2 separate regions of the Homo sapiens genome follow, and region 2 is linked to region 1. The links come from fine-mapping of genetic effects on plasma protein levels. A gene starts in region 1. The other region holds a variant in brackets. All regions are shown on one strand. Distances are between the middles of the regions. Region 1 holds the start of GALNT7 (polypeptide N-acetylgalactosaminyltransferase 7). Region 2 overlaps GALNT7 (polypeptide N-acetylgalactosaminyltransferase 7).

Evidence for each region. PIP is the posterior inclusion probability: the model's chance that the variant is causal. The UK Biobank Pharma Proteomics Project read protein levels with antibody pairs (Olink). The fine-mapping took linkage between variants from a reference panel, not from the people measured, so its PIPs are less certain.
Region 2: its variant is fine-mapped to the plasma level of the GALNT7 protein (UK Biobank, PIP above 0.99).

The regions. Positions count from the first base shown.
Region 1 is chr4:173,160,046-173,171,499 of GRCh38, reverse strand. It overlaps GALNT7 (polypeptide N-acetylgalactosaminyltransferase 7), which reads right to left and starts at 2,689. Exons shown (of 12, transcript NM_017423.3): 1 at 2,539-2,689. The coding sequence starts at 2,664. It overlaps GALNT7-DT (GALNT7 divergent transcript), which reads left to right and starts at 1,848. Exons shown (of 7, transcript NR_134242.1): 1 at 1,848-2,636; 2 at 3,387-3,538; 3 at 4,710-4,855; 4 at 5,201-5,376; 5 at 6,368-6,522; 6 at 7,147-7,207. RefSeq lists silencers at 1,311-2,540, 2,771-2,890, 2,961-3,010 and enhancers at 3,321-3,420, 5,499-5,578.
Region 2 is chr4:173,223,169-173,234,622 of GRCh38, reverse strand. All of the region lies in intron 1 of GALNT7 (polypeptide N-acetylgalactosaminyltransferase 7), which reads right to left. Among named protein-coding and RNA genes, the nearest start is that of MIR548T, 39 kb to the left of the region's middle. RefSeq lists enhancers at 7,437-7,952, 7,953-8,469. The variant C/A (reference allele first, on the strand shown) is at 6,411.

The DNA.
Region 1 (11,454 bases):
TTCAAGACAAAAAGTGGCACAGGGTGAATGGAGCCACAGGTACAAGCTTGCTGGAGTAGAGGCAGAACCCATACCTGGTAAACTGGATCGTTCAGGCTATTTAAAGGGATCCAAAAAAGTCCATGTGTAGATCAGCATTAAAGAGAAGCAGAGATCTCACCATGGGTGGAATATATGCAATAGTCATCGAAGTAAAAGAACCACAAGGGGGAGGAGAAACTCAGGAGTCAGAATCCTCCCTACAGGATTTGTCCTTCTAGCACTGTACCTTAAAAGCTCCTAGGTTAGTCTTTATTAAAGGAAGGCAATAATCCCTTATTTATGCTCTTATTATTTATAAGCTACACTTTAAATTGCTTGTATTACTATTTACCTGGGAAGCCAATAAAAGGGTCTTTCTTGCTCTTCTGATACCTAAGCATTCCTCTTAATGTTAATTATGTTAAGTCTTTAAAATCTACCTTTTGTTTTTGACAAATGACAGAAATTACACTGGATCCACTGAGAAACTTTATCAAGTACACTGAAACAAACAAAAAATCAAGATATCATCACCTTCTTTATCATCACCATATAGTACTGAAATGGGCATTATGGCCCATCCTTTGTTTGCACTAATAAAATATTCCACGAGTTGGCAAGTGATGCTGATGTTCCGCCACCTCTTTAAAAGATCATCAGAAGGGCGGGACATTCTGAACCTAGCTAGTTTTGTCAGTTTTTCGTCAGTTTCTCTACCAGAAAATAGGGGGTTAAACATTTCTAGCTACATGTAAAAAGCCATTTGATGACTTAAAACAAATATCCTCAATTGCAATATTCAGTTATCCTTTGTCAATAAGTCATATTGAGAGCAAAATTATAAAAAGATCACCATCACTCCATGAGCTGAGAAGCTTAAAACCGCAAATGTACTGAAAAGGAAAACTGATACTTTTTATTACCATCAATTTAGATGACTTAGATGGGAATCTATCCCAGATATTACAAAGGGATTCCACTGCTGTAGAGACTTCAAATACTAAAACTTCCAGATTACATCTAATCTCATGATATAGGCGAAGAGCTGATAATGGGATCTCCTCCTAGGATTCTTACTCTTGAAAGGACGCCACAAGCCTTTTTGCCCAACTTCTTGATGCTAACTTTCCAGAAGGAAAGTTAAATAAACATGACATAGAAGCGATGCTCATCACACTTGCAAAAAGCACTTTACAACAGAGAGAGCGACTCGACTCCTCCTGCAGCCCCGCCGCCTCGGCGGTCGTGAGCCCCTCATACCCTCTCCTACCCCCACTGGCAGCCGGCCCAGTTGGCTGTCCCAGCGGGGAGGAGGAAGCAGGTGGTGCAACGGTTCATCCGGGGGGAAGCAGGTCAGGGTCGGGGGCGAGGCCGGTGCGCGCCGCCCGCTGCCGGGTCAGGGAAGCCGCAGTGCCCGCGGTCCCTTCCCCGCGCGGCGCGGCTCCGGGTAACTAATGTTCCGAGGCGCCTGACTAAACCCTCCAAATCCAAGGAATGTCAGCGCTAACACTCGCGCCCTGGGCGGCAGACAAATGCGTCCCAGCGGAGCCGCCGCGAGCTCCGCGCCGCCGCTCCCCTCGGCGTCGGCCTGAGCTAGCCGGCAGCCGGCGCGGGGCGGCCGGGCGCCGACACAAGTTAGTTTTCCGGCCCAAGCAGCCCTGCCGCAGCCAAGGAAGAGGAACTGCTCCTCTTCCCCCGGATAGCGCCCGAGCACTGCCACAGCAGGGGCTTCCCCAGGCGCTGAGGGCTGGGGGCGGCGGGCAGGCGGGGCGGGGACGCCCCTCCGCCATCTCCGGCCAACCGCCCCTCCCTCGCCCAGGGACGCGAGGGGGACCGGCGGTCCGGGCGAGGCCTCGGCCGCGCATCGCACCCCGGCTCCCCGCCGCCGGAGTTGAGGGGGAGGCGCGCTCTCCGTAAGAGCCGGAGGCGGGGCGCCATCGCCCTCCCACTCCCCGGCGGGCGGGCCGGGGGAGCCCGGGGCTGCGAACACCCCCAGACGGGCGGCTGCGGGAGGGGAGGCTGGACCAAGGGGCCTGGTCCACCGGACCAGCGGTGGCGGCATCGGCATCTCGCCTCCTTCAGGCCTGCACGCGCCACAGGCCGCAGCCTGGACCAACCCCGCGTCCCCGGGCCGTGAGCGCTGCGGTCCCGGCCCCCCAGAGCGGGACGCCGGGCGGCCGCAGCCCCCCGGACCCGGCTCTCCGCCCGCTCCGCCCGCAGTCCCGGCGCGGAGAGCGGCCGCCCGAGCCGCTGCCGCGGCAGCGCGGGTGTCGGCGACGGAGCCCGGGGCGGGGAAGAGCGGAGGAAGGGGCGGCGAGGGGGCGGGCCGGCGGCGGCCAGGGAGGTCGGAGTGCGCGGGGCTCGGCACCCCCTCGGCCCGCGCTGCGCCAGCACCACCTGCGGAGCTGCGGTGCCCACGCCGTGCCGCGACCCCGCCGCCCCTGCTCCCTCCACACGCGGGCAAACAAAACAAGTTGCCGGTCGCTGCCGCCGGAGGGGGCCGGGCGGGTCACTCACCCTCATCCTGCTCAGCGGGCTTGGGTCGTCCGGCCGCGGGGTCAGGGAAGACCAGAGGACCACTAGCCCCAGGAAGCTTCCCACCACCAGCAAACTGCGTAAGATGAACCCAATCTTCAGCCTCATCTTCCTCCGGCGGCGAGAGACTCACAGCCCGGCGCAGCCGCCGCCACCGCTCTCCCCTCCCTCCTTCCCCCTCCTCCGGCTCTCCTCCCCCTCTTTCCCCCACCCCTACCGCTACGGCTGCCGCCCTCTCCGCTGCCTGCCCTTTCCAGCTCCAGATCCGGAACTCCCCTCGGCTACACCTTTCCCCGGGCTCTTCCCTCCGCTCCTCCCCGTGGCCCCCTCCCCTCTGGCGGCCACCGCAGAGCTCCGACTGACCCGTGTGCCTCGCTCTGCCAGGCTGCCTTCCTCTCTACCTGCCCCCTTCCAGATCCGCAGTCCCCTGCTCTCCACGCGAGCCCCCTTCACAGTCCCTGCTACCTTGTAACTAACTTGCACTTTTCCCGAGTCCGGTTCTTAGCCTTTGCCCTGCAGCTCAGCTCCTTAAAGCTTTCAGATCCCCAAACTTTTATTGTAATTATGGACAATAACTCCGTCCTTAACGCCTGTGCCCTCCGGGATCCCGTGGCCCGCCGCCCCCTCCGTTGGACCTGGAGTCGCTCTCGTCTGCACCTCTCCCTTAGACCCACTTCCCTGAGCCCCTTGTCGAGAGGCTTTCAGGAAGCCAACCAGGAAGTGGGACTACCGCTGCTGCTGCAGCAGCTCCACGTGGCTGATTTATAGCTGAAGGGTTTTTTTTTTTCCTTCTTATTGATTGTTCTTGCTTTTTCACACGGCTCCTTAAGGTGGTGAATTTGTAACCGAAAGGCCCAGGTGAGATGTGCAAATATCACTGGATTGGAGGAGCTCACTTGGAAAGCCAGTATTCCTCCTGAGCTAATGAAAAGAAAGGCTGTCGTCTTATGCCAAAAGCAATACCAACCTTGTTCACGGGCTGGTAAGTTTCAAATCCAAGGACCACGGATTTCAACTCCACCCTCATTGCGTCCCTCAGATCTGATATTTGCCACTTGATTTCTGCTTTTCAAACGCCTTTTCTGCCTGTGTTACCTAAATTACACAGTAAAGGATATTGGCAAGTGTTTAGCCAAATGCCCCACCCTGAGGAAATAATTTTTCTGCCCATATCTCCCAATAAAGATGTCTATGCCTTTATAGCAGAATGTATGTAATTACATTATCAGTGTACTATATCCTAAACTGCTAATTTAAATTTAAGTCGAACAAAACGTTTTAAGATTTTATCCTAAGTTTTTTGGGGTTTTTTTTCTTTTCTTTTTTTTTTTTTTTTTTTTTTTTTTTTTTTTTTTTTTTTGAGACGGAGTCTCTCACTCTGTCACCCAGGCTGGAGTAGAGTGCAGTGGTGCGATCTTGGCTCACCTCAACCTCCACCTCTCGGGTTCAAGCAATTCTCCTGCCTCAGCCTCCCCCGTAGCTGGGACTACAAGTGCACACCGCCACGCCCAGCTAATTTTTTTTTTTTTTGTATTTTAGTAGAGACGAGGTTTCACGGTGTTGCCCAGGCTGGTCTCGAACTCCTGAGCTCAGGCAATCTGCCTCGTACTCCCAAAGTGCTAGGATTACAGCTGTGAGCCACCACACCTAGGCTATCCTAAGTTTTAAGATGGTAACAGCTGATTCTTTTTTCTCGTACTGTCTCACATCTGCAAGTTTTTTGCTTTAAAACAAAGCTCAGTTATGTAAAGTTTTACAGTGAAACAATTTCAATTATCAAGATAGATAAAGAATTATACCAAACTACCTTCATGTGCTTTTTGGCTTGGCTTACAATAGCTAGTATATCAGGGAGTTCTGTAGATGCCATAATTTCAAAATTTCCACAAAATATCTGAAGTGATATCCTCATGAACAGCATGGTTCCGGAAATGTAGAATGGATTGTAGTTAGGTGTATTATTGGTTGGCTGAAGGACTGTACATCATATTGTATAAAAGTCCACTATATAGAGTACCTGGAAGAGGGACTGTCAAGTGTTAAACACAAATCACTGCTTGACTTAGCATTTATATCAGCCCCTTAGGTTAAAACCAGTTGTTTTAAGTAGAAGATGAGAGATTTTGCCTAAGACCATTTTTTTTGTGTGACAGAGATCTAGAGTGTGTAATTCACGAAGTATGAATCTGCTGGGTAATGTGATATGAAAAGCGAATGCACCATTTCTTGGTGATGATTCAGGTCAGCGTTGGGACCCAGGAATCTCCTGTTAATCAGTACCCTGGTGATTTTGATCCAGGTAATCTGGGCACCACCTTTGGAGAAACACTGAAAGGAAGCAAGGTTGCGGGGGGTGGTTGGGAAAAGTCTTATATGGATATCTTTGGAAGACAGAAATAGGCTCATTTATGGACTCAACTTGAACTGTTCAGAAGTGAGGTGGACTCCTTTTCTTTTTTATTTATTTTTTTTTTGAGTTGAGGTCTTGCTCTGTCACCCAGGCTGGAGTGCAGTGGCACATCCATAGCTCACTGCAGCCTGGAACTCCTGGGCTCAAGTGATCTTCCCACCTCAACCTCCCGAGTAGCTAGGACCACATGTGTGAGTCATCATGCCCAGCTAATTTTTTTTTTATTTTTTGTAGAGACGGGGTCTATTATCTGGTCCTGTTGTCAAGGCTGGTCTCAAACTCCTGGCCTCCAGCGATCCTCCCTTTTTGGCCTCCCAAGATGCTGGTATTACAGGCATGAGCCACCATGGTCCACCCGGACTCCTTTTCATAGGAGACAGTTCCCTAGGCAGAGACTGGGCTTGAAACAGGTAACTTACAAGGCATCCTGTGATCATAAGAGAATAATTCCATTTGAAATCAGCAGCTGAAGTCCACCTGAATAATTAAGTCTTTCACTTGTGTTATTTTCACAGGGGAGACAGTTTTTTATTCTTAAGAAGGTAGGAAGCTTTATTTTTACTGTTATGAGCATAGCTGGGCAAGTATGCAAATGGAAAGTGATACCTATCATCAAAGTATTGAGGATGGTCCTTTGAAGGCCCTAGTATTCTGAGAACATCCTGCCACCACTACCACCCCCCAACTTTAGTTTTACACAGAGAACTTAAAATATGTGTGAAAGAGTATATAGTTATACAGTTGTATATTGATGAATAGGTATATAGTTGTAAAAGTTTATGTTTCTCTGAGTCTTAATAACTTTTAAAAGAAACTGCAAGTAAACTAACACAGGAACAGAAAACGAAATATTGCATGTTCTCACTTATAAGTGGGAGCTAAATGATGAGAACACATGGACACATAGAGGGGAACAACACACACTGGGGCCTATTGGAGGGTGGAGGGTGGGAGGAGGGAGAGGATCAGGAAAAATAACTAATGTGGGTACTAGGCTTAATACCTGGGTGATGAAATAATCTGTACAAACCCCCATAACACAAGTTTACCTATGTACCAAACCTGCACATGTACCCCTGAACTTAAAAGTTTAAAAAAAGTGCAAATATACCTTAAAACATATGCCCATTGCAGTATTTGCTGGGAGGCAGCCTTTGTAGGGTTGACAGAACTCGTTTAGAAAATGAGGAGCTACATTCAAAGCTTCAGTCAAGATAAATCACGTACCTCTCTGAACCTAGGGCTTTTATCTGCCAAATAGTGATTACAATACTCAACCTTATGATGTTCTCAAAAGGAATAATTGAGATCAAGTACATATACAAATATAAAGTACAATTAGTGTAATGGAACAAGTCTCAGGTGCGTGTGGCTATAATTCTTGTTTTATGAATGCTGCAGTTCCTCTAAAGAAGAGGGTAGAGACTAGAACTGAATGAGATGGACATAGAGATGGCCAAGAAAAGCATCGTCCTCTGCCAAGTCATGGGGTCATGTGTGGTGGATGGTGACATGGTGTCCTCAGCTCAGAGTCCAGCTGGGGGCTCAGAAGCAAGGTAACTGAAGGGAGAGAATTATTTGAGCACCTAGTGTGTGTAAGATGCTTCACATTTATTATTTCACCTAACCTCTACACAACCTGTTGTGGGTATTACTGGTCTCAAGCTGGGATTCAAAGCAGGTTTTTCCAACCTCAGAATTCTTGCCAGACTGATTAGCCTTCTGCATCTGGAACATAAATGTTTTCAGGCAGCATAATGTGCAAGAGGTCAGAGCCTAAAGCTTTGTTATTTTTTAATTTCTCCACCATGTCAACTCTGTTACAGGGAAGCCCAGCAGAGGGAATTGTATCCATTTTGGGGCTACACTACCCCAATGCTATGCTGCAGCCAAGCTGAACTTCTAAGTTTCTAAATGTAACTCACTTACCTTCAGGCCTTTGTACGGGGAGTTCTTTTTGCCTGAAATACCTTCTGACATCTTAACATTACGCTTAGATGTCAGTTACAAAAAAGCTTTTTCTAGACTCTCTCACATGTCCCACTCCACACCCCTATATCTCTTCCCACCAATGTACTAGGGTAGGTATCCTGCTAGGTACTTCCACTGCACCCTCTACTTTTCTTCCCTAATGATTACCACTATATTGTAATTGCTTAATTTCTTTTTCCTATACCCAGATAAAAATGTGTATGAAGGTGGAGCCTTGTCTATCTAGTTCGTTATTGTTATCCGTGTCTGGTATGTGGAAAGGGCTCAGTGAGTATTTCTTGATGGAATGCTGAATGAATAATGGGATTGAAAATATAAAAGGCAGACAAAACTTAGAAGAGGGGCCAGGTTTACTTCAATTGCTATTCCTCCTCACTGGGAGGTTTTTCTTCCAAGGACAAAACTTTGGAGGTTTTATTAAATTAGAAAAGTGATTATTTTACATATGGTCATCATCATCAATTGATAGGCTGTTGTTTCCCCCTTACTCAGCATCCTACTAAGGCTGCTTAGAACTAAGAAGAAAGGGTAATTTTAATTTAAGTTCATATTTTTGTATGTACGGAGATTTAAAAAAAACAGCTACATTAAAATGGGAATATGTAGCCATAGGGAATTATTTGCAAACAAATTTCAGTATTATCTATGTGTGGTTGCCAAGAACTCAGGTTAAATTAGAGTCAGTGACCTCTAAATGACTAAATATCCTATCACCTATTCTATAAGCCATTTAATCACCTCTTTTCAAAGAAGAAGAGCACAATTGGTAGTATCTTTAAAGGAAGATACATTTTATTGTTTAGAAAATAACTACTATTTAGATATCAAGGGAAGCATAGTGTAAGTTTGTTAAGAATTTATTAATTTTGTGTACTGTTCATTAGTTACCTCTTACTGCTTAACAAATGACTCCAAAGTTTAGCACTTTCAAACAACAAACATTTACTTCACACAGTTCCTGAAGTCAGGAATCTAAGAGTGGCTTAACAAGGTGGTCTGGCTCAGGGTCTCTCATGAGGTTCTTACCAAACTATCAGCTGGGACCACTATCATAACCAACTGGGCCTGGAGAATTTGCTGTCAAGTTCACCCACATGGCCAGCAGGCAGGCCTCAGTTCCTCACTGGCAGGCGGTGGGAGGCTTCAGTTCCTTGTCACCTGGGCTTCTCCACAGGGCTACTCATGACATGCCAAGCTGACTTCCCCCCTTCATGAAAGATCTGAGGGAGAGAGAGCCCAAGGCAGAATCCACAGTCTTGTATAAGAAATAATCTGTATACTGCCTTCATCTGTAAAATGAAGGTGTTGGACCAAATGATCTTTAACATTCTTTCCAATACTGAAATTCTGAGATTTTCCTATGATGCCGATGTGTGATTGAGACTAATTTGTGCTTTCATGTGGAATACTATGAGGTAAAATCCTGCCTTTGTACTTTTTTTCTGACATGGGGTACTATTTCTATCATAAGCTTGAGATGGATAATTCCTGAGTTGTGCTCATCTGGAATAAAGGACTGTTGTCAAGGGCTTCCATTTAATGAGGTTAAGGGTCTCCTACAGTGTTTGGAAAGCAAAAATATTTATGTAAAAGCCCTCAGATTTCACATCGTAGAACACTACCTCTTCATAATTTGGTACTGTTTTTGGACTCCCATAATTCAGAAGTGCTCTTCTGATCTAACCATTTATTTAAGAGGTGATTGAAACGGATTTTGTCTCTTACCACTCTTGTTTAAAACCTCTTCAACAGCTTCCCATTGCTCTTATATTTAAGCCCAAATTCCTCCATTTATTACAAAGCCTTTGTGAGCTTGCCTCTGCTTACCTCTGCAGCCCCATGGCTGGTCAGTTATCCCCTCTTTTGCAACTTAAACTATAGCCATGTTGATTTTCTCTCCATTTCTGAAATAGGCTAACTTCCCTCTCACTTCTAGACCTTGTGTGTGTTATTCTCTCGCTTAGAACACTCTGTGGTTCTTACACCAACCCCTCTCCCATGAACTCCCTGATAATCCTTCAGATTTCAATTTATACATCAGTTCTTTCAGAAACCTCTAATTGTCTTCAGTCCCCGATCCCACTGCTAGGTTAGAAGACCCTCCTTCATGCTCTCAAAGCACCCTGTAAGTTCTCCCTCAGAGCATATAGACCAAGTTTCTTTTCTTTTCTTTTCTTTTCTTTTCTTTTCTTTTTTTTTTTTAGACGTAGTCTTGCTCTGTTGCCAGGCTGGAGTGCAGTGGCCCCATCTCAGCTCACTGCAACCTCTACCTCCCGGGTTCAAGCGATTCTCCTGCCTCAGCCTCCCGAGTAGCTGGGACTATAGGCATGCGCCACCACCCATCTAATTTTTGTATTTTCAGTGGAGATGGTGTTTCACCGTGTTGGCCAGGATGGTCTCAATCTCTTGAACTCATGATCCGCCCGCCTTGGCCTCCCAAAGTGCTGGGATTACAGGCATGAGCCACCGCGCCTGGCCTAGACCAAGTTCCTTAAGGGCAAGGACCATGTTCGAATTTGGCATTGTGTCTCTAGATGTTGACCATGCTTGGCACAGAAGAGATGCTCAGTATTAAGAGACTGAACAAGTGAAAATATATTTCCTGTGTTCACTGTTAAGCGTGGGGAAAAAGGAGTTGCATAAGTAAAAATACTAATTTAAAAGCCCTCAGATTTCACAGTGTGGAACACCACCTCTTCATAATTTGGTACTGTTTTTGGACTTCTATAATTCGGTAGTCTTCTTATTTAAGAAGCATTCTTTAATAGCTCTTAAAATATGATAATATCTAAATGATTTGCAGAAGCATTTTATAGGTAGATGGTTTTGCCTTTATTTGGGTGTTGGGGAAGAAGGGTACAGTATTCTACATTTTACCTGACCAAAAAGAGTACTGTAATTCCTAGATAATAAACTGATAGCTATTTGAAACTGCCTGTTGGCTCACTGAAGGGAAAATGCATTGCCCACAACCTCATATCTTTCATGTGGGAACCCAGTACCTATAAGACAAACTGGCCTCTCTCTGTTACTATTGATAATCTCTTAGAGCATAACTTCTAAATAATGGGTGGAATGGAAAGGAACTCTGTCAGTGAAAGGGCTAGAGAACCTGCCCTGCTATATGCAGATTAAGAGATTTGGCTAGACTCAAATTTCTAATTTCCTTTAAAATGCTCAAATTTCTTAAAACTAGGGTATGAAATGCACTGAAGAAAGACTCAGGTTCTCAGCAGTGTGGTTAGTTAAATGACCTGAAAGTCTTCAAAACTGGTATTTATCAAGGTATTACTGTAAGTCGTCTTACAGTCTGTGCACATAAACCTCTCCACCAGCAAGCAGACTAGTTTCAGACAGTTATCAATCTGTTATCACATCCTTCCAGAGATCCTGATTATCTAGCTATGCCTAGAACCTGACATTCTTTATTGTGGGAACCTATAAGACAAACTAGCCTCTCTCTTGTTAATACTGATTATCTCTTAGAGCATAACTTAGACACAACAGGGGTGGAATAGAAAGAAACTATGTCAGTGAAAAGGCCAGATAACCCATGCTGCCATATGTAAAATGAGAGGTTTGGCTAAACCACATTGGGCATAGCTGGATAAGCAGGATCCCTGGAGGTGTGTGAAGATGTGTGGACAGGAGAAAAAAGTCGGAGAGGAGGGGACATTCCTGTGCTTGACTATCTTCTGAACGTTTTTTGATTAATTTGTATAAAATTGGGTTATTTTAGTAATGGAGTATGTCTTCAAGCCTTTTTAGGCATTTGAGACATAAACAGTTACACACAAATAAAGGAACTGAGGTTCAGACTACAGAGAGATGATGCGAGAGATTCTCCCAAATGATCCAGGAATTAAGAGGCTGGACAGGGACTAGAGATCTGTTAATTCCAAACCTTTTACTTCCCAACTATGCCATCTTGCTAATGTCCAGAAATTTCATCCTTTCTTTAGTTTGTAACAACTGAACAATGACAAGTACATTTTCTCTTTTATTTGAACATGTGGCTCTGTATTAAATGACTATTTGGAGAGCCACAACAGAGTTGTGAGCTAAGAGTGCTGATCTTCAGGGGAGCTCAAAATACTGCCATTTAGGTAAATGTACCTTTTATCATACTGCAAAGAGTTATGAAATTTGAATTTTAATTACATTTCTTTTTTGGAGAGTGATCTTTGAGGACTTGGTTTTGTGGGATAACTTCTTTTTTCAAACCATATAAAATTATTTTTAACAAATGGCATCCTTTTGTATAATCTTTTCTTGTATATTTTTAGATATTTCTATTCAACATTTTTTGAGCTTGTGTCACGTGCTATTCATTGTTCTAGATGCTGGAAATACAGCAGTAAACTAAAAGCCAAAATCCTTGTCCCCATAGAGTCAGACAATAAGCCAAATATGTATATTATTACATACTGTTATTGAATAAACTGCTGTATCACCATGTGCCAAGCCTTATTCTAAGAGTATACAAAGATTAACTC
Region 2 (11,454 bases), 63 kb before region 1:
TAGTAATTACGAAGTAAAATGAGCAACTGTTTTCTTTTGCTATCCAATCATGATGGATTGGATATGTGTGATGAAGGAGAGGGAGGTATGAAGAATGACTTTAAGATTTGTAACTTATACAACTGGATACTATTCACTGAGAGAGGAAACACTGAAATAGACCAGAATTGAAGATGATGAGTTCCCTTTTAGATATGCTGAATTTCAAGTGCTTCTGAAACATTCAAGAGGAGACAGAAACAGAATTTATAGCTCAGTGAAGAGGTCTGGACTGGAGAATATAATTTGGCACAAATCTTTATGCAGATAATAATTGACTCAAGAGCCAATAAGACGAGTGATGGAGAGATTATAAAGTGAGAAAAGGAGAGGATCTTGGATCCCGCCTTGAGGAATTCACCCCTTACATGATGGATGGAAGAGGGTGAGACTATAGAAGAGACAGATGACTAGCCCAATATGTGGAAAGAAAACCAAAAACCAAAACAGTGTGTTCAAGACACAGGGCACGGTGAACTATGTCGAGAAGCCAAGCAAGATGAGGATTGCATTTGGTAACGTGAAGTTGAAGCTGACTGATAACTTCAGTGACAGCTGTTTTGGCAGGGTAATGGTGTCAAGAGCCCAACTGGAGTGAGTGGAAGTGTGGAGTTGGGAGATGTGGAAACGATACAAACAAGAATAGACAACATTTTTTGAAAAATTTGATTTGCCTGTTAAGGGATGAATAGAGATGAAGAGGCAGCTGGAAGAAATATGAAGTGGAATGAGAAAATTTAGTTTGTTTTTAATAGGAAAAGCTTGAAGATTTTTAAAAGCAAAGGCAAGGGTGAGACATTAAAAAGCATGTGAGAGAAGGGGTAATCAAGTGCACAAAGTTCTTGAGAATGAAGAAGGGATGGGAGCCAAAGCAGTCATGGGGACTGGCCTGGCTGGGAGGCGGACAACCCCTCTGATGTAATAGGAAAGATGGAATTGGTGCAGATACTGGCATTGTTCTCTTCTTTGGGATCCAAATCCTCAACCACTGCAGTCTGAATTAATCCAACAGTGTCTCCCATTTAATCTATTCTATATATTGCATTTAGACTTAGCTCTGTTAAATACTGCAGATATATGAAAAAATACTCAACATCACTAATCATCAGGGAAATCCAAATCAAAACCGCAATGAAGTATCATCTCATCTGAGTCAGAAAGGTTCTTATCAAAAAGACAAAAAATAACAATGCTGGCAAACATGCAGAGTAAGGGAACTCTTATACACTGTTGGTGAGAATGTAAGTTACAACAGCCATTATGGAAAACAGTATGGAGGTTTCTCAGAAACCTAAAAATAGAACTACCATACAACCCACCCATCCCACTACTGGGTATTTATCCAAAGGAAAGGAAATTAATATATCAAAGGATACCTGCACTGTCATGTTGACTGAAGCACTATTCACAATAGCCAAGATACAGAATCAACCTAAGTGTCCATCAGTGGATGAATGGATAAAGAAAATGTGGTATGTATACACACAATGGAGTACTATTCAGCCACAGAAAGAAATCCTGTCATTTGCAGCAACATGGATGGAAGTGAAGGTCATCATGCTATGTGAAATAAGCCAGGCACGGAAAGACAAATACCACGTGTTCTCACTCATACGCGAGAGCTAAAAAAGTGGATCTCACCGAGGTAGAGTAGAATGATGGCTAACAGTGGCTGGGAAGGGGAAAGGGGTAAAGAGAGATTGGTTAATGGGTACAAACATACACTTAGATAGAAGGAATAAGTTCTAGTGTTCAGTACCACAGTAGGGTGACCATAGGGAACAACAATTTATTGTACATTTCAAAATAGCTAGAAGAAAAGATCTGAGGCATTCCCGACACAAAGAAAAGGAATGTTACAAGCTCACACCTGTAATCCCAGCACTCTGGGAGGCTGAGGCAGGAGGATCTCTTGAGGGTAGGAGTTTGAGACATGCCTCGGCAGCATAGAGAGACCCCCATCTTTACAAAAATTTTTTTTAAATCAGCAGGGCATGGTGGTGTGTGTCTGTAGTCCCAGTTACTTGGAAGGCTGAGGTGGGAGGATTGCTTGAGGCCAGGAGTTCGAGGCTGCAGTGAACTATGGTCGTGCCACTGCCCTCCAGCCCGGGCAACAGAGCAAGACGCTGTCTCTAAAAAAAAAAAAAGTTCAAGGTAACAGATATCCTAATTACCCTGATTTGATCATTACACACTGTATGCATGTATCAAAATATACCATGCCCTCCATAAATATGTACAATTCATATGTATCAATCAAAAATTTATAAAAACCACTGCTTTCTAGTATATGTCAGGGATTTTTTTTTTTTAAGAGACTGAAAGTCTCCCTAACCAGGCTCAAACTCTTTGCCTGGCTTCAGTGTTACCCACTATGTACTCACTCAAGGTGTCCCTGTACTCATTAGTCAGTCACGTCCCTTCAGGAGATGATTTTAAAAAATTATTTTCAGTCCTGCCTCTAGGGTTTGCTCACTTACCAGCCTTAGCCTACAGCACTGCCCTGCTTTCCTCCTCTCTTCCTTCTAAGTTCAGTTCCAATTCCATTTATAAAGACTCAGCCCCCACCATCTGCTCTAGTTCCAGTGATATTTTTCCTCTTATGAATTTCTACTCAATATTTTTATAATTCTCTAACTGTCCTATATGTTAGTTTTTCTTCCCCAACCAGACTAAAAAGCTCTAATTGAGGAGAGTCTTAGTATTTTGCTCCTTTTGCACAGGAAGAGCTTCTGTTATGTGTCTTCCTTTCTCCTAAATTCTGTGCCATTTCTAGTTTCCTTATTTCTACTCCCATATACAAAAATAATAACAGTTATTCAACAGGAAACATGTTTCCTGGCCTCCATATATTTAAAGGAGGGCCTGCCTTATGTTTTTTAGATGGATTTTTGGGGCAACAGCAGTGCAATTTTTGATTTTAAAAAATAAAACTACTAGACACCGTTAAGTATGTTACATACTCCAATCCTCGCAACTATCCAGTGAGACAGGACCTGTAATTTTACTCTCACATTTTATAGTTCAGGAAGCCAAAGATTAGAGAGGAGATCATACATCATTAAGTCACACAATCAGTAAGCCACTGATGTAGGTTTGAACCCTGGCCTGTGACTCCTGATCCTGTGCTGGTGGCCACAATGCTAAACAACTTCAAGAAGACTGCTTGATAATGACTTCTACTTTGTAGAAACCCAGAAATTTACAAAAACAATTAACTCGAGGGGCCTTTAAAACATGCGATTAATATATACTTTAATGTCTCTTTATTCTGCTTTTTAAAATCATGTTATAAGGCTATCTTTGGCAACCAGTTACACCAAAGAAGCCAATTCTTACACTGCACAATGAGATCTGCCTGTCAAAGGTGTTTTGTTCCTTCAATGTGTTAGGTCATGATTTCCCCTGACAGCTTGTGAAATAAAGGGAAAAACATTTTTAAAAATTTGATACAAAGAATTAAATCAGTCTGTCCCATAAGTAAGGACTAAAGTGCTTTTCAACCTATGTTAAGCAGACTGTTCCAACTGAGGTACTACTGTGAATTTTTAGATGTTCAAACTATCGCTCATGAATACTCTTGCCTTTTTGTGAGCAAAAGTAGTGCTGTGGCTATGGAGGAAAACTAAATTATTCACAATTGAGCCTATTCCTATAGCTTTGCTGATATTCTACTCTAACCAAAAATTTATCAAATGCCTGGTTCCATAAAGACAGCAGAAGATAATTACACTATCACAGAATAATTTACTATATTTCCCAGGACATGCTAACTATATTATATATAAGACCAGAGTTCCATTTTTCTCCCCTCCCATAATGTAAGAGGTATCAGTGAGAGAAAGGGAGAAAACCCCTCACAGAGTACTTATCCAGAAATACAACCAACAGTCTGTTTTCTAGGACACATGAAAATGTTCACTATGAAACCCAAGTGAGGATTAGGAGTGACATATCAAAACACTACTTTCATACAGAATAATATGGAATGTTTTCCTAATTTAATTTCTGATTTATATAGTAAACAGATTATACTCATATTAAAACATTAAAAATATGATAGTTAACTTTAACTTTCCCTTACTTTCTATTTCCATTTCTTCATCTTGCTACCTACCACCTTTTAGATGAAAGAAGCAATATTCTAATTTTACCATAACCATGTTCACAATACCAAACCATTAAAATAATCATTTTATTTCAAAAACTTTTTGGCACTTTGAGAGAAGGAAACATAGCAGTAGTTAAGCAACAGGAAGCAACTCTACCCATTAACTGAAAGAATATATAACATATGCTTAAATTTAGCTGGTCTGACACATTCCAACCAACCTCAGTTGATGAACATAAGCTGCTGAAGTGGTGCAACTGAAATTTGCTATCTGTTTGCAACAAAAGGTGAAGCTCTGGCAAATAATATGCAATAATTTATTGGAAGACTACACTGGCAAGTCTCACTGAATATCTCAGTTTTATTTTGCCATACTCTTCTGATGACCCTAAGTCATACAGGTTTTTTGTTTTCTATTGAAAAGGTTCCCTTCTTTTACCTGGTATAATGAAGGTAAGCAGCACATTTATCCTGGTATCTACAAATAAATGAAAAAGGAAGCATGTTGTTACTATAGCACACACTTAAGACAGCCTGCCAATGTGTCAGTCAAAGCATTGTCAAAGTTGGAACAGAACCTCCAAAGGCTTACCAAGAAAAATGGAGATAAAAATGAAAAAAAAAGTAGTAAATCAATTTATCAGAGAAAGTATTTCATTGAATACTGACTTCCATCATGAAGACGACTACAAAGACTACGATAATACGATGAGGAGAAGGTAGAAGAACCCATACAATGAAACAAGCATGATTCTGCCTGCATCATACGTATCTCTTTTAATTCCTGCAACAACTCTTTGAGCTAGATACCACTATTACCCCATTTTACAGTTAAGAAATCAGAGGCACAGAGTTTAAGTAACTTGATAAAAGCCGTGCTCCAAGGAGGCAGTAAAGGTAGGATTCAAATCCAAGGTCTCTGGCTACAGATTCCATGTTCTTAACTATTATACTCTCTCTAGGTCGAGGGAGGCATCCATGCTTTTCATATCCTTAACTAGAATTTCTAGGGAACTTCTAGCTAAATAAATTGATAGTTATCTTTGTAGACTATTTAAATGCTAAAACAAATATATTCCTTAGAATCACTGTTAATTTCAATACATTTATTTCAATAAAAATTTCCTTTATTTTCAAACCAATAAAATACTACTAACTAGAATTCATAATAAAGCAGCTCAGGAAAGGCTACTGTAATAGAAGTAAAAACTTACTATGACGCCCACTAGGGTAGGTGAATATTAAGATGTAATAAATTGTAATATGCAGGAAATGATATACTCATCTCATGTGACTTGACTGCTACAGATAAAAATGAAATACTTTATTTTCAGCTAGTCACTTTGGCACATAGGACCATTAAACTGAGCTACCGTGCTTGCTATTGTGATTTTGCAAAAACACAAAATGGTCTTCAAAAATCTGTTGTCTGCCACTGACAATATGAAGTAAATAAAATAAGGTTTTCAAATTGACACCAAAGAGGAGTTGGCCACCCTTTCCACTGCCTAAGGCATGTTAGTATTCCTGAAAGGCATCCTCAATTTTGGTCACATGCAGATCTCACTAAGATCATTATTTTCAACAAATTTCTTGCACATCTACTTCAGGGTATGCTTACTGGTAGGGTTCCTGGAAGTTAAAAGGCAGTGATGACCTCAAGAAGCATAAAATCTGTTTTTCATAAACATACCAGTGGCTCTTAACCTTTTTAGGGTCACAAAGATCTTAGACCCTCCTAGGCGGGGAAAAAAAGTAAAAACAATTTAATGTTGGTAGAGTTTTTTTTGTAAAGCCATCTGGCTGTGAGTATCAAAATCTTTAAAAGCATTCATTCCTCCTGACTGCAAAATTTCAGACCTGTGAATATATTCTAGGGACACAATTCTAATTACAGAAGAGACATTATGCAGAAATGCTCACTGCAGCCTGTATACTAGCCAATCTACTAGAAACAAACAAAATGCCCTTAATGAGAACAGTTAGAAAAATTATGCTAACTGAACTTAACACAACTGAATAGTATATAATTATAAAACGTTCAAAAAATAATTTTTGTAGAAAATCTTTATATATAATATTAGTTTGAAGAAGTAGAATATACACATTGAATATACATACTGTTTACACCACATCACCTCAAATATGCAAAAATAATAATGGGGCATAGAAATGACTAGAAGAAGAGAGAGTAAAAGCAGTTTTCTCTGGTGATGAGCTTTTGGGTGTTAATTTTTCTCATCTCTTGGTTTTCCTTATT[C/A]CCTACATTGAGCACTGCTTGTACAAATTTTCAAAAAATTGTTAAGCTTCCTGTTAAATTTGTTTTTAAAACTATTTATTCAGAAAAAAATTGACCTGCTAGAAAACATTTTATATAACTTGAATATTTTTTCCATAAGGAAGCTCTTTATCATAGTAAGCTATAAAATTTGTTGGCTGCCAAAGGGGTCATTTTACATAATTTAAGGAACAAACAGAAAACACATGACTAGCACAGCTGAAAAGAGGCTCATAGAAACAATATTTATGGCCACAAAATGACTAGGCTGAAAGTTCACACACGGCATAGCTAGCAATGTTTTTCACTTGAGAACACAACCAAACTTGGGGTAGCATTTAAAAAACAGAAACAAAAACCCTAGCTTAAGCGATTTTTTTTAAAAGGTGCAAAAAACACAGAATGCAGTGAAATCAATTATTAATCACTCAATTATCCATCACTTAAAAGCAATGAGAATCATGCTGCATGACCTCCGCCAACATGAGACATTCATGAGATAGAAGTTCAAGTCCTACACAGCACTCTATGTGAAGAGGCACACATCCTTATAAAAAAGAAGGAGGCCAGGAGTGTTGGCTCAGGCCTGTAATCCCAACACTTTGGGAGGCCGAAGTGGGTGGATCATGAGGTCAGGAGATCGAGACCATCTTGGCTAACACGGTGAAACCCCGTCTCTACTAAAAATAAAAAAAATTAGCCAGGTGTGGTCGTGGGTGCCTGTAGTCCCAGCTACTGGGGAGGCTGAGGCAGGAGAATGGCGTGAACCTGGGAGGCGGAGCTTGCAGTGAGCCAAGATCGAGTCACTGCACTCCAGCCTGGGCGACAGAGCGAGACACTGTCTCAAAACAAAAACAAAAACAAACAAACAAAAAAGAAGGAAACAAATGCTCTACCTTACACTTTGCTCTTTAGTGATCTCTCCTACTTACCTGCTCCCAGGTTCAATCTTCCTCAAGATACTTCTTTAAATGGAGTTACATTTTAAAATTTTTAAATTAAATTAAAAATTAAGGTTAAATTAACAGTTTTTCTCTCCAAAGTGGTAGATATACATGGTAAATTGGAAGCAAGGAATTAAAAGGAATGGTTGGACTAATTTTTAGGTTATTTTTCCTTATTAGATTGGCTTTTAACCACATATTAAAGCATATTTGACAAATGCATAATTTTAAGGCATTTCATTTCCAGTTTAGAAAAATTATTAACCAAAGAAAATTATGTTGCTGGGTACTGAGTTTCAACATACTCAGAAATGATTTATTTTTTAAAAACTATAGAACAAACATATTTAAAGTATTTCGAGGTCTTCCAATAAAAATGAAGACCAGAAATACTCCCAAAGGAAGAAGAGAACAAATAGTGCATTTGTAACATAGCCTCACCTCATTTAAATGGAAAAATCAGGCATTTCTTATGCTGAGAGCACATAATCCCATATACAAGGGACCAGGTACACCAGAGGCAGGAGGAGGTGGACGTGTTTCTCTACACCAGGGAGTGATAGCACACACAGCCCTTCTGCCTCCAAGTTCACACAGAAGACAGACAGTTGGGACAGTCAGCCAGCAAGCTGAGAGTGAGTAATTTTCTCCACCAGAAAATCACGGGATGAAGGATGTATGCTGAGTGTCAAAGAGGACGCTTTAACAAAGAAGGGGTTGAAATTGAGGAGATCCTAAGCATGGATTAATATGAAGACTTTCTCTTGCATTGACCTCTTTGAGAACCTTCTCAAGAATGGCTGTAAAGACAAGCAGAGTAAAATGTTGAGGACTGGAGATGCTAAACGCCTGATGTTTAAAAAAAACAGCAAGTTACTGCATAAAAATATTTTGGTTTATCCGATGTAATATAAGGCACGGAGTTAAAAGCTGGTACAACTGGGTTAAAAAAGACTTTGAGTTTATGGTGAATGACATAAGAGCAAATGCCTCTAAATATATATATTCTTCAATGGGAAAAATAAGAAAAGAATAGCCAATAGGGAAAAAGTCTTTATCAAGAAAATTTGTTTTGAAGAAATTATAGCAAATTTACTGGAGATGTGGTGGACACTGTGATCAGCGATCAGTTCTACCCCAGAAGCCCTTTCAGGATTAAAAAACTTATTCCCCTGGCTGCAGAGAGTGCCAGCAGAAGAGGGTCCCCATCCAAGATCAAGCCTCCTTCCAGGGGCAGTCTGCACACAGCGATGGGTCAATGCAGAGGTAAAAAGGCCAGTCCTCTTGCTCCAAATTGGAAGGACTTTGAACAACTACCCTAGCTCCAGAGCTCTCTGTGGGGTTGGTTCAGGACTTGGTAGAGAACCACTTCATAGCTCAGCTTCACTGAGTGGTTGTGGTTGCATCTCCTCCCTTCCAAAGGTATTGATCCCCAGAGATCAATTCTGTTAGATCTGTCAGGTATCTCTAACAACATAAGGCATCCAAATCTCAATCTCAGAGTGCGCTTCCTGGGTAACCCAACCTGTGGCAAAGATAAAACTTGTGTTTTCCTTAGAAAGTAGCTCATTAAGCAGAGTACATATATTTAAGTCAGTTTCCTCATTTACAAAATTGGAATATTAATATATGAGCACAATAAGGTTCCTGCAAGGATTAAATGAGGCACTACATAAAATACTTTGAGTGCCTGGCAATGCTAAATATGCAATAAATGCTAGGCCATTATTAAATAATGTTTTAAATCCTGTTTTAAAAAACAGGATTACTGTTTAAAATCTTCTGAAGAACTGTAAGGAAGATATTGAGGATAATGATAGCCTATGAAAAGTTACTGTTCATGCCAGTAGCTTCTAAGCTCCCTATACCATCTTCCTGCAAATTCTTGATTTTTCTTTTTACTTCCCAGTCAACCCTTTTCCCATTTCCTTAAACATTTCTCCCTGTGCCCAGTAATTCTGTAATTACATTATAACAAAATTATAAAAATGTCTAAGAAGGAAAAAAGAGGGGAGGGAGGATTGAGAGATATGACCCAAAGTAAAACAGATTTCACATATTCCAGCAGTCCTGAGGCTGACTAGGGCAGGAGATCATGGATTGGTTATTTTAAAAATACAAACCTACAATCTGACAAAATTCTATCTCCAGGATTCTAATTCAGAAGATCTTGGGGAAGTGGGCACAGATATAATTATAATTATTATTATTATTATTATTATTATTATTATTTTTTGAGACAGAGTCTCGCTCTGTCGTCCAGGCTAGAGTGCAGTGGCACAATTTCGGCTCACTGCAAGCTCCGCCTCCCGGGTTCACACCATTCTCCTGCCTCAGCCTCCCGAGTAGCTGGGACTACAGGCGCGCGCCACCACGCCTGGCTAATTTTTTTTTTAATTTTTAGTAGAGACGGGGTTTCACCGTGTTAGCCAGGATGGTCTGGATCTCCTGACCTCGTGATCCGCCCGCCTCGGCCTCCCAAAGTGCTGGGATTACAGGCGTGAGCCACCGCGCCCGGCCAATATTTGCATTTTTAAAAACTCCCCAGGGACAGAAAGAATTGCAAAGAAATCTTAAACTTCGTTCAGAATTTTATTGTAATTCAAAACTATATATGTATATATGAATCAAATAAATATATTGCAAGTTTTAAGTGTGATATACAAATATAATTTTTAAAATTAATGTTAAATTTAAATTACAAATACTAACATGAACTCATGATTAAGAGAAATACACATATTTCCTTGCACTGTCCACTGAAAAGGTCAAGAAGCAAAGATACAAGTACAATAGGTATGCCTAACACTTAGAGCTTGATTTATACATACCATCCTTCACTAAAAAGAACTGAGGTTCCTTGAAGAAATGGTTGATTTGGGGTCTGAGGCAGGAAATTGGAAGGTGAGCAAATTTAGTTGTGTCAGAAAGAAAAGTAGCCCTGAAAAAATAATGGGAAAAATTCGATATGGTGAGATCTACTCGAAACGTGGTAAAGGGGAAGGATTACAAATTACCCTAACTTTTTAGAAGAAACTGTAGTCGACCCACAGTTGATAAAGAAATGCTCACCTTTACAGAAGAAGGCCAGCTAATCAATGTAGATGTAACAACAGAGTCTGATGGAACAATAGATTCTGGTAGGGACAAAAGGATGGTTTCCTTTAGGTGAAATGTTAGCAACAGGATATTCACATAGTACCAAACTACCATCCAGACACGTTTGTTATTTACAAAAAAAAAGAGATCTGCTACTTACCACCATGAACAAATGATTAAATACAATTACCAGCGATGAAACAACCTGACGTCATTTGCCACCTGATGTAATGCAATATGAAGTACACACATCAATGAAGAAGTATTTTTATCAATAATGTTTTACCTAAACTCAAATCAAGCCAAGACTTATACAGATAGGTCTATGTATATACACACAGAGGGAGAGAAAGGCAGAGAGAGAAACCAAATTTGTTAAAATATTAACAGCTATTGAATTTAGGAGGTACTTGTATGAATGTTCATTGTACTAGTCTTTCAGCTTTTTGTATATGGGAAGAAAATTTTAGTTATAAAAAGCTTGAGAAAAATAACATTAAAAATGTTCTTTAGGTGATTTTAGTGATCATTCAGCTTGACAAATTTTGGACTGCGGGGGGTGGGGGTCTCATTTATGGAAAAGAGTTAAGTTTATTCCAAGAGTGAAGGAATTCCTAAAGAAAATATGCATAACAAAATGCATTGTGCAGTTCTTTTTCATTTAGTAACATTACTGAATAGTTATGCTACCATTACAGAGTTTTTATATAAGAGCTAGTATGATTTGCTTCTCTTAGATCAAAGTGAAATACAGGTATAACTCAGGTTATATCTTGCTATATAAAAATCTTGCTAATTAAAAAAACTCTATCACTTAATTTATTCACCATATGTATTGAATCATTAATATAGGTTAGAAAAAGGCAGGATATGGTGTGAAAAAGGGAGGGGAAGTTTATTGCATTTAAAAGGCAATGAATGGAGTCCTATGCAGAATAGACTGTGTGATCTGACTTTTTGATGACTACAGTGTGTATCAATGG